2 linked regions of the Homo sapiens genome follow. The protein of the gene in region 2 interacts with the protein of the main gene of each other region in a pairwise test. Each region holds a gene or a part of one and is shown on either strand. Other genes may lie near its edges.

Region 1 (7,000 bases), on a different chromosome or scaffold from region 2:
CCCTGGGAAATTCACCCAGCCTGACCTGAAGCAGTTGCTGAGAGGCAGAGGAGCAGCTCCAGGTGTTTTGGCAGGGAAGCAGCTGGCAGCTGTGCGGGAGCCCCTTGCCTCCCGTGTTCTTACTGAGGAGTGTGTGGGGCAGCTCGGGACAGGTTTCACTTTGGACAGTGGTTGGAGGCTGCTTACTCTGGCAGAGTCATCTCAAAGAGCCTTGGTGTATGTGCAAAACGGGGCCATCTGCATGGGCGTTGGGAAGATCACAGAACCTGGACCCTTAGGATGACCCAAGGGTCAGTTGCATACTGTTTGTTTTTGTGGAGTCAATGTCCCATGACGGTTTTCGCGATGCTTTGCTAGTAGGAGCAGTGGCGTGTGAGGCTCCCGGTTAAATACCATGAGATTCTAAGCGGAATTCTGGGTCTCCTGGTATGCACAGGTAAAATTACAGTAGACCTGTCCCACTCTTTGCCAGAACCTCGTACTTGTCTGCAGTTTGACTGGAATAAGGGGTGTTTGTGTTCCACCTCCCTCCAACGTGTGTTGAGACATTTATTTATTTATTTATTTATTTACGTTGCTCTTGTTACCCAGGCTGGAGTGCAGTGGTGCAATCTCAGCTGCTCACCGCAACCTCTGCCTCCCTGGTTCAAGTGATTCTTCTGCCTCAGACTCCCGAGTAGCTGGGACTACAGGCACGCGCCACCAGGCCTGGCTAATTTTGTATTTTTAGTAGAGACGGGGTTTCTCCGTGTTGGTCAGGCGGGCCTGGAACTCCGAACCTCAGGTGATCCGCCCGCCTCAGCCTCTTAAAGTGCTGGGATTACAGGCGTGAGCCACTGTGCCTGGCCCCAAGACATTGATTTTATTTGAGATGAGGTCTCACTTTGTCACCCAGACTGGAGTGCAGTGGTACAATCTTGGCTCACTGCAACTCCTTCCTCCGGGGCTCCCACCACAGCCTCCTGAGTGACTGGGACCAGGGGCACGCGCCACCACACCCAGCTAATCTTTGGTAGTTTTGGTAGAGATGGGGTTTCACCGTGTTACCTAGGCTGCTGTCACACTTCTGGCCTCAAGCAATCCGCTCGCCTTGGCCCCCCAAAGTGTTGGGATTACAGGCGTGAGCCACTGCGCCCAGCTGTGTCGAGACATTTAATATTTGTCAATCTGATGGATTGAAATGGTAGGTCATTTGGGCTTTCCCTGCAAGCTCCACCTTCCGGGTTCACGCCATTCTCCTGCCTCAGCCTCCTGAGTAGCTGGGACTACAGGCGCCCGCCACCACACCCGGCTAATTTTTTGTATTTTTAGTAGAGACGGGGGTTTCACCGTGTCAGCCAGGATGATCTCGATCTCCTGACCTCGTGATCTGCCCGCCTCGGCCTCCCACAGTGCTGGGATTACAGGCTGAGCCACTGCGCCCGGCCGGGTTTTCTGTAATTTCTAGTGAGGTTGGACATCTGTTCCAGTTACCTACTGCTACGTAAAAGTCGCGGTCACCTCAAGTCAGACACCATTCTTAAAACAGTTAACACAACCATTTTATTATATCTCACAGCGTTGTGGGTTAGGAATCTGGACAGTGAGGGCAGGGTTAATCTTCAGTTCTGTGCCACCAGCTGGGATCACTTGAGGGTGCTTGGCTGGCATACGGGTTAGTCTGGGGACCACTGCCCCCTTTCCGGCATCCTCTGTGGGTTCCAGCATTTTTCTTTTTTTTTTCTTTTTGAGATGAAGTCTCGCTCTGTCACCCAGGCTAAAGTGCATTTGTGCGATCTCAGCTCACTGCAACCTCTGCCTCCTGGGTTTAAGTGATCCTCATGCCTCAGCCTCCCAAGTAGCTGGGATTACAGGCGTGTGCCACCATGCCTGGCTAATTTTTGTATTTTTTTTTTGAGATGGAGTTTCACTCTTGTTGCTCAGGCTGGAGTGCAGTGGCGCGATCTCGGCTCACTGCAACCTCCGCCTCCCAGGTTCAAGCGATTCTCCTGCCTCAGCCTCCCTGGTAGCTGGGATTACAGGCATGTGCCACCATGCCCAGCTAATTTCGTATTTCTAGTAGAGATGGGGTTTCTCCATGTCGGTCAGGCTGGTCTGGAACTCCTGACCTCAGGTGATCTGCCTGCCTTGGCCTCCCGAAGTGCTGGGATTACAGGCATGAGCCACCGTGCCCGGCCTTTTTTGTATTTTTAGTAGAGATGGGGTTTCACCATGTCAGCCAGGCTGGTCTTGAACTCCTGACCTCAAGTGATCCACCCGCCTTGGCCTCCCACAGTGCTGGGATTACAGGTGTGAGCCACTGCACCCAGCTGGGTCCCAGCATTTGCGGGATTCAAGGTGGGGATGTGCAGTCTGTCAGGAGTGTTAAAAGCACGGCAGCATTTCCAGTCCCCAGGCCTCCTCTCCTTGCTTCAGCCACGCCCACCCTCCTCTGTGCCTGCTCATGCCCATGTGCTTCTGTTGGGCTGTCTGCTGGTCCACAGGAGGATTACTGGTGTTCCGGATTTTCAGCATGAACACAGTATGGGGTCTGGCCCGAGGAGGGCCTGGCTAACAGAGCATGGATTCAAAATCAGAGCAGAGCTGGGTACCGTGGCTCATGCCTGTAATCCCAACACTTTGGGAGGCTGAGGCAGGTGGATTGCTTGAGCTTAGGAGTTTGAGACCAGCCTGGACAGCATGGCAAAACCCTGTCTCTATAAGAAAAACAAAAAACAAAAAACAAAACCCAGGTGTGGTGGCACGTGCCTGTAGTCCTAGCTACTTGCGGGGCTGAGATGGGTGGATCGCTTGAACACAGGAGGTTAAGGCTGCAGTGAGCCGAGATCGTGCCACTGCACACTAGCCTGGGCGGCGGGAGTGAGACCGTGTCTCAAAAACAACAACAACAACAACAACAACAAAAAAACAAAAAATGGACCGAGGTTGGGGTGGCAAGGCTGGGCTGGAATGGAGGCTGAGGACAGGCCCTGGCAGCGCCCGGGGGTAGAGGGCGTGCAGCAGGAAGCAAGGGCCACCCTCAGGGATGGGGGACTGGGCCTGGCAGCTGCCGAGGGGTAGGCAGGATGCATGTGGAGAGCCACGTGGGGCTGCGGCTGAGCCAAGGATTGTGAGAGGAATCCTGCTGCTCTGGGTGGCAGGCAGAAGGCCTGGGCCACAGGTGGGGCCTGCTGGGGAGACCACAGGTGAGGCAGGTATGGCTGACCCTGGGCGCTCGGCACACCGGTACTCCTCCTGCCTGGCTGCTCCCTCAGCAGGTGTCAGAGTCTGAGTCACCTTTTCCTCACGTGACCCCCACCAGGACCAGGCAGGGAGGTGGCCATCTTTGGCCCTGACTCAGCCCTGCAGGGAGAAGAGGGGCTGGAGGTGCAGGTGGCCTGCCACTGTCTCCCCCAACCCCTGCCCACCTGGGTCTTGTGCTGTGTGTACTTCTGCTGCGTCTGTCCTCCCTTGTGACCAGCTTCTGCTGGACCTGATTGTCCAGCCATGATCTTCTGATCATCATGGTTTCTGGACACACATCTGTTGGACTAAGGAATTTGTGTTCCTGGCCACAGAACAGTGCCACCTCTGCCTCAAGCAGTTCCTGGTCTGGGCACTCCCCCAGGGAGGCCGGAGAGGACTGAGCCGTCTCCTGATGCAGAAAGTCAGCCCCGCTGGGCAGTGCTCGCCCAGGAAGTAGGGCCCCACCCAACGGTGTGCTGACTGTGGAACACTGTGTCTGCCTAGGCGGGTCTGGCCACATTCCTGCAGCATGATGGTTGGCAGTTAGCTTCCTGGAGTGTGGACGGGTCCTTCCCTGCCTGACTGACTTGTCCACAGGGCAGCAAGAAGATGCGCCCCTTGGTGTGTCCCGAGTGTCTCCTGTAGGCAGCTGAGCTTTCGCAGGTCTGGCTGGGAGCCAAGGTTACCAATCTGGGGGGTAACCCAGCCATCATCTGGATGAGCGTTGGGGTCTTTCTGCTCTGGATTGCAGGGCAGACGTCGTTTTGTGCTGGTCAGGCCCCTCGCCTGCCTGATTCCCTTGGAGCCCCCCAAGACAGGAGATGGGCAGATGTCCTCTGAAGTGGCATGGGCTGCTTGCTCACTGGCCTTCCCAGGACCCTGCCCAGGTGGTGCTGCTTGGCCCCAGGTCGAATTCCTGTGCTGGCAGCAAGCAGGGGCCTGGGCCGTCGGCTGGCTGGGGCTCATGCAGCCATCCCCTTTGCAGCCATCCGGGTGACCTGCATAGGTTCCTGCGGGGTCTCCAACAAGGCTAATGACACAGCGTGGGTAGTGGAGGAGGGTTACTTCAACAGTTCCCTGTCGCTGGCAGACAAGGGTAAGTTTGGGAGCCAGTTCCCGAGTGGTGACCCCTGGGGGCAGCCCTTGGAGTGGGGCCTGTCTGTCCTGTCCTCCCCCTTTCCTAGATCTGCCTCTTGGATCTGGCACTGGCCCATCTTGTCCCAGGGTTGTGGGCCCTGATGGCTTTCTCATAGGCGCTGGGTGGCTGAAGGGGCCACCTCCCCCTTGTGCTGGATTTGGGTGGGCTCTGACCCCTGGCACAGCTGTTTCACCCTTGCCCCATTCCCAAACCACTCTCCTGTTCAAGCCAAGCTCTTATCCTCAGTCCTTCACCCAAGCCACAGCCCTGTGCTGCTGTGGCGCTGGTGACTGAGACAGGGAGACCCAGTGTGAGCTGGTCAGCTGCAGTGCCCACTCTTATCCTGGCCCTGTGGCCACCTCAGGCCACCTCAGGGGGGGACTGCCCCCCACCTCCCTCCTGTCTCTGCAGGGAGCCTGCCCGCTGGAGAGCACAGCTTCCCCTTCCAGTTCCTGCTTCCTGGTGAGAGCCCAGCCTGGACAGGCCTGGTGATGACCAACTGGTCCTGGGAGGTGGGCTCTGCAGGGTGGAAGGCAGCCAGGTACCAGTGCCTGCTCTCTCCCCAGCCACTGCACCCACGTCCTTTGAGGGTCCTTTCGGGAAGATCGTGCACCAGGTGAGGGCCGCCATCCACACGCCACGGTTTTCCAAGGATCACAAGTGCAGCCTCGTGTTCTATATCTTGAGCCCCTTGAACCTGAACAGCATCCCAGACATTGAGGTGAGGATGGCACAGTGACCTCCTTGGTGGGTCCCCACCCTCATGGAGGCTGGGGAAGAGCTGGGCAGGCACTGCTTCATCCCAGCGTCCTGTCCCCAGCTGAGGTGAGGGGGGCCAGGGTCTGGAGGCAGTGGCCTCTTTGCCCTGAGCTGACTGCTGATGTCCAGGGGCAGGGCGTGGCAGGGCTGAGGGGCCTGTCCCAATGCCACAGGGATCCAGCCTGCGCACACCTGCTAAGCCCCTCCCTGGCCCTCCCCCCAAGCAACCCAACGTGGCCTCTGCCACCAAGAAGTTCTCCTACAAGCTGGTGAAGACGGGCAGCGTGGTCCTCACAGCCAGCACTGATCTCCGCGGCTATGTGGTGGGGCAGGCACTGCAGCTGCATGCCGACGTTGAGAACCAGTCAGGCAAGGACACCAGCCCTGTGGTGGCCAGTCTGCTGCAGGTCAGAGCCCCCGCCAGTTGCCTGGACCGGCCTCCTGGGGTGGGCTGGCAGCCTGCGCAGGCTCACAGGCTGGTCCTTCCCCAGAAAGTGTCCTATAAGGCCAAGCGCTGGATCCACGACGTACGGACCATTGCGGAGGTGGAGGGTGCGGGCGTCAAGGCCTGGCGGCGGGCGCAGTGGCACGAGCAGATCCTGGTGCCTGCCTTGCCCCAGTCGGCCCTGCCGGGCTGCAGCCTCATCCACATCGACTACTACTTACAGGTTTGGTGCTGCTGGGGGCTGGGTGGTCTGAGGCCTAGTGGCCTTGGCCCTGGCCCCTCATGCCCCACCTCAATCCTGTCCAGGTCTCTCTGAAGGCGCCGGAAGCTACTGTGACCCTCCCGGTCTTCATTGGCAATATTGCTGTGAACCATGCCCCAGTGAGCCCCCGGCCAGGCCTGGGGCTGCCTCCTGGGGCCCCACCCCTGGTGGTGCCTTCCGCACCACCCCAGGAGGAGGCTGAGGCTGAGGCTGCGGCTGGCGGCCCCCACTTCTTGGACCCCGTCTTCCTCTCCACCAAGAGCCATTCGCAGCGGCAGCCCCTGCTGGCCACCTTGAGTTCTGTGCCTGGTGCGCCGGAGCCCTGCCCTCAGGATGGCAGCCCTGCCTCACACCCGCTGCACCCTCCCTTGTGCATTTCAACAGGTGCCACTGTCCCCTACTTTGCAGAGGGCTCCGGGGGGCCAGTGCCCACTACCAGCACCTTGATTCTTCCTCCAGAGTACAGTTCTTGGGGCTACCCCTATGGTGAGTCGACAGCCAGGGCTTGGCAGGGAGGGGACGCCAAGAGCCCCACGCAGACCCTGCTTTCTTCCCGCAGAGGCCCCACCGTCTTATGAGCAGAGCTGCGGCGGCGTGGAACCCAGCCTGACCCCTGAGAGCTGACCCCGTGCTGCCTTCTCCAGGCAGGCCTGGCCTCTGCCCTGGGACTGGGGCGCCCAGGGCCTCGTGCCTTCTCTCTTGGCCTAGCCTGGCCCACTCAGGACCTGCCCAGCCTCTGCCAGCTCCTCTGGCATCCGCCCTCTTCTCCCTGGGGCTGGGGTGGGGGTGGCAGGGAGCTGGGACCTGGAGAGACAACTCCTGTAAATAAAACACTTTATTTGTAGAGCTGGGCCTCACCGGCCTCGCCTTGGGCACCCTCCAGCCTCTGGCAGGGCCTGACCCTGACCCCATCCTGGGCTCTGCTCATGCCAGGGCAGACCCTGCTCCTCAGGTGCCCCCTACTACCCTGGGGGCGCGCTCAGGCTACCATGCCTGGGCGGAGCCGCGGGGCTGGCTCCCTTTAACAGAGGACGGGGGCTGGCGCTGGGCCTTCCAGAGCCGCCTAAGGACACGTCCTTGGAGCCCGGCTCATGAAATGGGGCCTCACGCAACCTTGGTGTTTGGTTAAATTTGTGCCTTGGCTCCTGTTGCGTTTAGGCACCCAGGTTCC
Region 2 (7,132 bases):
ACGCTGTCACCCAGGCTGGAGTGCAGTGGCGCAATCTTGGCTCACTGCAAACCTCTGCCTCCTGGGTTCAAGTGATTCTCCTGCCTAACCTCCCGAGTAGCTGGGACTACAGGCGTGTGCCACCATGCCCGGCTAATTTTTGTATTTTTAGTAGAGATAGGGTTTTGCCATGCTGGCCAGGCTGATCTCGAACTCCTGACTTCAAGTGATCCACCTATCTTGGCCTCCCAAAGTGCTGGGATTACAGGTGTGAGCCACCATGGCCGGCCTTGGATTCGGGGAAGTTGAGGCTGGAAAAGATGTGAGGAATTACGTAGTTTGTATCCCTTTTTTGTCTGCTGGACTTTTAACTCATGTATTCGGTGTAAACAGACCTCTTCTGTCAATACTTTGCCGTCTAGCTCGTCCGATGTTTGGCCCCTTTTTCTCTGCTATCCTACCTTCACCAACCCACACAGTCTGCTGGTGCACTTACGACATTGTCCGTGTATCTGGGGCTCTTGTGACACTGTGACGTCTTTGAGGCCAGTGGTCAGCTTGTCTTTACTTCTCCAGTACCAGGCTCGGTCTCTGATAGATGGTAGATGCTCAGTAAAGGTTTGTCACCAGTATTCCTCGAGGCAGGGGAGCACATTTTTATGGCTCCCTACTGTTCTGTCGCACTGTTGCTGAAATCACTACTGTTGGTTCAGCAATTGTGTGTCAGTTGCATAGGTTTATCCACCTCATCTGCAGGTGAGGAAACTGAGGCCTAGGGAGCTTAAGTTACATGCTCGAGGTCGCGCAGCCAGTAAGTGATTTGAACAGATCTGTTGGACTCCAAAATGTTATTATACCTGTTACCTACTTCGAGGACCAAGTCTCATGGGGATGAAGAGACACACTGCAAGTTAACAGTGGACTGAGGGAGGTGGGGTGATATGATTAAGGTGGTTGAGGATGGGAAGAGCACATTTGTTTTTTGTCAGATGCATTGTGAAATGAATGTTTATGTCCATCTGTTGAGTTTTTGAAAATTGACAAACTTGCCGGGCATGGTGGCTCACGCCTGTAATTCCAGCACTTTGGGAGGCCAAAGCGGCCGGATCACCCTGAGGTCAAGGGATCGAGACCATTCTGGCCAACATGGTGAAACCCCATCTCTACTAAAAATACAAAAATTAGCTGGGCGTGGTGGTGCACACCTGTAGTCCCAGCTACTCGGGAGGCTGAGGCAGGAGAATCACTTGAACCTGGGAGGCAGAGGTTGCAGTGAGCCGAGATCGCACCACTGTGCTCCAGCTTGGCGACAGAGCAAGACTCTGTCTCAAAAAAAAAAAAAAAAAAAAAATTGACAAACTTTCTGATAAGTTCGTCAATGGAATTTTATTGCTTAACTAGTTCATTCAAGTTAACTAAAAATAGAAACTTAGAAAAACAAATACAGTGAAATAAGTATATGTTGAAAGCCGTTTCAGCAGCCTTTTTTTAAACCACTGTAATTTCCATCAACATTTAACATAGGGATTATCACCCATTTGTGAGTAGAAAAACTGAGGCCCAGAGAGGTTAAGTAAGCTGTGAGGAACTGGCACAGCCAGGATTCAAAGTGAATCTGTGTAATTCCCAGGCCTGGGTCCCTTCTGCTCCACTGGCCCCTGTAGAAGGCCCCACAAAATAATAGGTATTCATTTAAATAATAGAATAAATTTGTTGTCTGAAAGTCACCACCAAGTTTATTTAGAAGGTTGGGAATTGTGAATAACGAGATTTCTGGCTCTTTCCTAACCTTAGAACCTTTGAAAACACTGTGGTTTGAATGTCAATAATTAATGGATCATTTTAGCTGAGAGACACTAGATTTGGTGTTTGATCTGAAAAAAAAAAAAAAAAAGCCTAGGCCAGCCACGGTGGCTCATGCCTGTAATCCCAGCATTTTGGGAGGCTGAGGTGGGCGGATCACTTGAGGCCTAGAGTTTTTGAGACGAGTCTGGCCAGTATGGCAAAACCCTGTCTTGACCAAAAAAATACAAAAATTAGCCGGGCATAGTGGCATACACCTGTAGTCCCAGCTACTCAGGAGGCTGAGGCAGGAAAATCACTTGAACCTGGGAAGGGGAGGTTGCAGTGAGTCTCCAGCCTGGGTGACAGAGCAAGACTCTTGTCTCAAAAAACAAAAACAAAAAACCTGTCTTCTTTTGAACCAGATCCGCAACATTGTTAAAATGCTCCCTATCCATGCATTGGATTCTTTCTGTGACTCATTCCCCTAGTACCTAGGTGCTGGAGCCTGCTTCGTTCCTGGGCATAGAAAGTCCTTTTCCTGATTCTGTTTCCTGTTGGTCCTGGTCTAGGCAGAGTGTGCTTCACTTTCAAGCCCTCTAGAGACAGGACAGGTAACTTAATTCTCTTTCTGTTCAAAGCAATACAAGGAATTGGACATGCAAAGGGCTGTAAATAAAGGGACTCCCCATCTTCTCTTCATGGTAACCCTGCTGATATATAGAACAGGGAAAAGTAGGCTCATCCTGGGGGACGGCTGATTGTTTAGGGCTAATGCATGATGTGGATTTAAAAGCATTTATAATTAATCACTTCTGAGTGCAGGCTTCATTTTTCCTCTTGGTCCCACCCCTCTTAGGTAGTTGCACGTTGCAGCAGCTCGATAGCTGAGAACACCAAGTGGTACAGTTAATTTGGCTTCAAAGGCCATGTGGCAGATAGCTTTGGAATGAGGTGTGGGTACTAATGGGCCTCCTGGCTGGGTGGCTTTGGGCACTTTAATCACTGAGCTTTGGTGTCCTCATCTCTAAAGGGGGGCTCGTAATCACTACTTCATGAAATAGACTAGCCTTGTTTCTCAAACTCCTGTGTGCAGCAGAAGCACCCAGAGGGCTTGCTGAACACGTGGCTGGGGCTGCACCCCATTGTTTCTCATTAGGGAGGGGAGGCCTGAGAATGTGTCTTTTTTTTTTTTTTTTTGAGACAGAGTCTTGTTCTGTTGCCCAGGCTGGAGTGCGGTGGCGCGATCTTGGTTCGCTGCACTCCACCTCCCAGGTTAAAGCGATTTTTCTGCCTCAGCTTCCTGAGTAGCTGGGATTACAGGTGTGTGCTACCATGCCTGGCTAATTTTTTTTTTTTTTTTTTTTTTTTTTTTGAGACGGAGTCTCGCTGTCTCCCAGCCTGGAGTGCAGCGGCGCGATCTCAGCTCACTGCAAGCTCCGCCTCCCGGGTTCACGCCATTCTCCTGCCTCAGCCTCCCGAGTAGCTGGGACTACAGGCACCCGCCACCACACCCGGCTAATTTTTTTGTATTTTTAATAGAGATGGGGTTTCACCGTGTTAGCCAGGATGGTCTCGATCTCCTGACCTTGTGATCCGCCTGCCTCGGCCTCCCAAACTGCTGGGATTACAGGCATGAGCCACTGCGCCCGGCCATGCCCGGCTAATTTTTTGTATTTTTAGTAGAGATGGGGTTTTACCACGTTGGCCAGACTGGTCTCAAACTCCTGACCTCAAGTGATCCGCTTGTCTTGGCCTCCCAAAGTGCTGGGATTACAGGTATGAGCCACTGTGCCTGGCAGAGAATGTGTATTTTTAGCCAGCTTCCAAGTGCTGCTGATGCTGCCAGTCTAGGGACCAAATTTGGGAACCTTGGCCCAGAGGACTTTATGGGAAGGTGTGTAAGATGTCTAGCACCTGCTGGCTGTGCAGTAGGAACTCAAAAATGACACTGAAATGTTTCTGAATATTGGTCTGAAGATGATGGATGGCGTGACATTTGGAAAGGAAATGGGGAGAGAAGATGTCATTGTCCTTCAAAAAGGCTGTAAATCTTGGATGCTGTTGAAAAAGCAGGTTCATCATTCTCACACATCATGTAAGAAGTTTACTGTCTAGGCCTTTTAGAATTGTAACTTGGGGGCTGGGTGCAGTGGCTCATGCTTGTAATCCCAGCACTGGGAGGCTGAGGCTGGTGGATCACTTGAGGCCAGGAGTTGGAGACCAGCATGGCCAACATGGCGAAACCCCATTTCTACTAAAAATACAAAAATGAGCCAGGTGTGGTGGCGTGGGCCTGTAGTCCCAACTACTCGAGAGGCTGAGGCACGAGAATTGCTTGAACCTGGGAGGCGGAGGTTGCAGTGAGCCGAGATTGTGCCACTACACTCCAGACTGTGTGAGGGAGTGTGACTCTTCTCAAAAAAAAAAAAAAAAGAAAGAATTGTAACTTGAAAAGGTTGAGGGAGTAATGTTGTTGGGTCCTGGATTCCCACGGGGCCACTTGGCATGGACCACTGGTGTTAATGGAAGTTGCTTCTCCTCCCTGCAGCAATTCAGATTTAATATTCTTTCATGTTTACAGTTCGAATTTTTTTTCTTCAGTGGTAATTATCAACTTGTCCATCAAAACCGAATGTGCAGGGAGGTGTGTGTGAGCCCCGATGGTTTTTGAATATTTCCTGTGTGCGAGGCCTTATATTACTAATTTTATGCACTGTGTTTAATTTTCATGGTGGTCCTGCAAGCCCTATCACCATTTCTCATTTTGCATTTTAAAAAACTAAGAGGGGTTCAGTAACCTGCCCCAGGCCATACAGTTAGTATGAACTCCTGCTGGTATGCCCCAGCTGGTATTTGCTGCCACCTGTGTCAAACTCAGAACTGCTTTATTTCCACGACCTCATTTGCAGCTGTGCCAGGTGCGCCCATTACCTCACTGTACCCTCACAACAACCCCAAGAGGTAGGCTGAGCAAGCTGAGGCTCGGAAGAGGCAAGCTTGGTCATGGGCACCTGGCCAGTGGCTGGCTGGACCTGAATTCAGTCCCACACCTGTCTGATTTTGGAGCTTTATGAAGTTGTTTCTATGATAACAGCTTACCTCTCTGTCAGGTGGCCCTAAGCTGCCTGGATGTGTACAGCAGGGACCTAGGGCTACCCTAGATGGCTTGACCCCAAGGAAGTCTGTGTGGGCTAGTAAGGGTTTTTGTGTTTGCAGAGCTGTGTTAAAATAATTGGCCAAATTTTTCCTTGAGCGAAGGGGACATTTCTTTTTACTTTGTGATCCTGCAGCTCTGCACACTGGTGTGGGTACTAAGGACTGAAAACCCTCTACTAATGCTACTTTGTTAAAAGGGGGTCAAATATGGAATTTGGTAGTCTTTTTTTTTTTTTTTTGAGTTGGAGTCTCTGTTGCCAGGCTGGAGTGCAGTGGCGGGATCTCAGCTCACTGCAGCGGCGGGATCTCAGCTCACTGCAGCCTCTGCCTCCCAGGTTCAAGCAATCCTCCTGCCTCAGCCTCCCGAGTAGCTGGGACTATAGGCATGTGCCACCACACCCAGCTAATTTTTATATTTTTAGTAGAGATGGGGTTTTGCCATGTTAGCCAGGATGGTCTTGATCTCTTTTTTTTTTTTTTTTAAAGATGGAGTTTTGCTCTTGTCGCCTAAGCTGGAGTGCAATGGCGCGATCTCGGCTCACTGCAACCTCCATCTCCTGGGCTCAAGTGATTCTCCTGTCTCAGCCTCCTGAGTAGCTGGGACTACAGGCACGTACCACCACGCCTGGGTAATTTTTTTGTATTTTTAGTAGAGACCAGGTTTTACCATGTTGGCCAGGCTGGTCTCGAACTCCTGACCTCAGGTGATCTGCCCGCCTCGGCCTCTCAAAGTGCTGGGATTACAGGCGTGAGCCACCATGCCCGGCCCTTCTTCATCTCTTGACCTTGTGATCCTCCTACCTCGGGCTCCCCAAGTGCTGGGATTACAGGCGTGAGCTATCGCACCCAGCTGGAATTTGGTAGTCTTAAAAAGTTACATGTGGCTGGGCGTGGTGGCTCATACCTGTAATCCCAGCACTTTGGGAAGCCGAGGCAGGTGAATCATGAGGTCAAGAGATCAAGACCATCCTGGCCAAATGGTGAAACCCCATCTCTACTAAAAATACAAAAATTAGCTGGGCGTGGTGGCGCATGCCTGTAGTCCCAGCTACTTGGAAGGCTGAGGCAGGAGGATCGCTTGAACTGGGAGACAGAGGTCGCAGTGAGCTGAGATCATGCCACTGCACTCCAGCCTGGCGACAGAGCGAGACTGTCTCAAAATAATAAGAATAATAATAATTCCATGTGAAGTATGTCCTTCCCCAGTAGGCAATTAACACCTGGGTTCTAGCCAATGGGTAATTTTCTCTCTGGTCTTAAAATGTCCTGGGGAGGCTGGGGTGTGAGCATTTTCCCAAGGTTTGAGCACTCTTTGCAGCTCCCCAACCAAGGAATGGTAAACAGCTATGTGTTGGTGCTTGCCCTGCACTTGTGGGAGGCCCTGGAGGCTTGGACTTGAGTTTGTTTTGTGAACTCTTTAAGACTCTGAGGTGAATAAATCAATGTGAGCAAAAAGTTGTATTAAAAGGCCCCTTCCGCCCCCCCCAAAAAAATATCCTAGCAATAAAGGGACGCAGTTGTTTTGTTTTGTTTTTTTTTTCCCCCCTGAAAGCAAGTCCTCCCTGTGTGCCTTTTTTTTTTTTTTTTTTTGAAGCGGAGTCTCGCTCTGTCACCCAGGCTGGAGTGCAGTGGCGCGATCTCAGCTCACTGCAGGCTCCGCCCCCGGGTTCACGCCATTCTCCTGTCTCAGCCTCCCAAGTAGCTGGGACTACAGGCGCCCGCCACCACGCCTGGCTGATTTCTTTTTGTATTTATGGTAGAGAGGGGGTTTCACCGTGTTAGCCAGGATGGTCTTGATCTCCTGACCTCGTGATCTGCCCACCTCAGCTTCCCAAAGTACTGGGATTACAGGCGTGAGCCACTGCGCCCAGCCCCCTGTGTGCCTTTTTGATACTCAGAGCTGTCCTGGGATATAATGACTATACTATGGATGACAAAATTTGGGAAACATCTGATTGGAGAAAGAATTTGTATGTCACTTTATGAGAAGCAGCTGGGAGATGTAGAAGTATGGGCATTTCAAGGACAGTTTCATGACTGAGGCCAGTGTCAACCTGAAAAATATGGAACACGTGATCTAGAGGCAAATAATGGTTATAAATGAAATGCCACCAAGAACTTAATCTAATTGAGAAGACAAAGTTACTATTTGTGAGACAGAAGCTAGCAGTTTGTTGAGCCATGATTTTGATTCTTTGTCAGGGGGTCAAGA

The links.
Region 1: the proteins of EPN2 (region 2) and ARRDC1 interact in binary tests that used the Homo sapiens proteins (3 or more experiments, as listed by UniProt).

The regions. Positions count from the first base shown.
Region 1 is NC_000009.12:137,608,686-137,615,685, forward strand, and holds the end of ARRDC1 (arrestin domain-containing protein 1), read left to right. Parts: intron 1-3,737; exon of another isoform or gene 3,738-4,071; coding exon of another isoform or gene 4,072-4,210; coding exon 4,211-4,321; intron 4,322-4,774; coding exon 4,775-4,825; intron 4,826-4,929; coding exon 4,930-5,084; intron 5,085-5,295; coding exon of another isoform or gene 5,296-5,346; coding exon 5,347-5,529; intron 5,530-5,613; coding exon 5,614-5,790; intron 5,791-5,873; coding exon 5,874-6,315; coding exon of another isoform or gene 6,316-6,388; coding exon 6,389-6,453; 3' UTR 6,454-6,675; downstream 6,676-7,000. UniProt on the Homo sapiens protein: Functions as an adapter recruiting ubiquitin-protein ligases to their specific substrates. Through an ubiquitination-dependent mechanism plays for instance a role in the incorporation of SLC11A2 into extracellular vesicles.
Region 2 is NC_000017.11:19,240,277-19,247,408, forward strand, and holds part of EPN2 (epsin-2), read left to right. Parts: intron 1-7,132. UniProt on the Homo sapiens protein: Plays a role in the formation of clathrin-coated invaginations and endocytosis.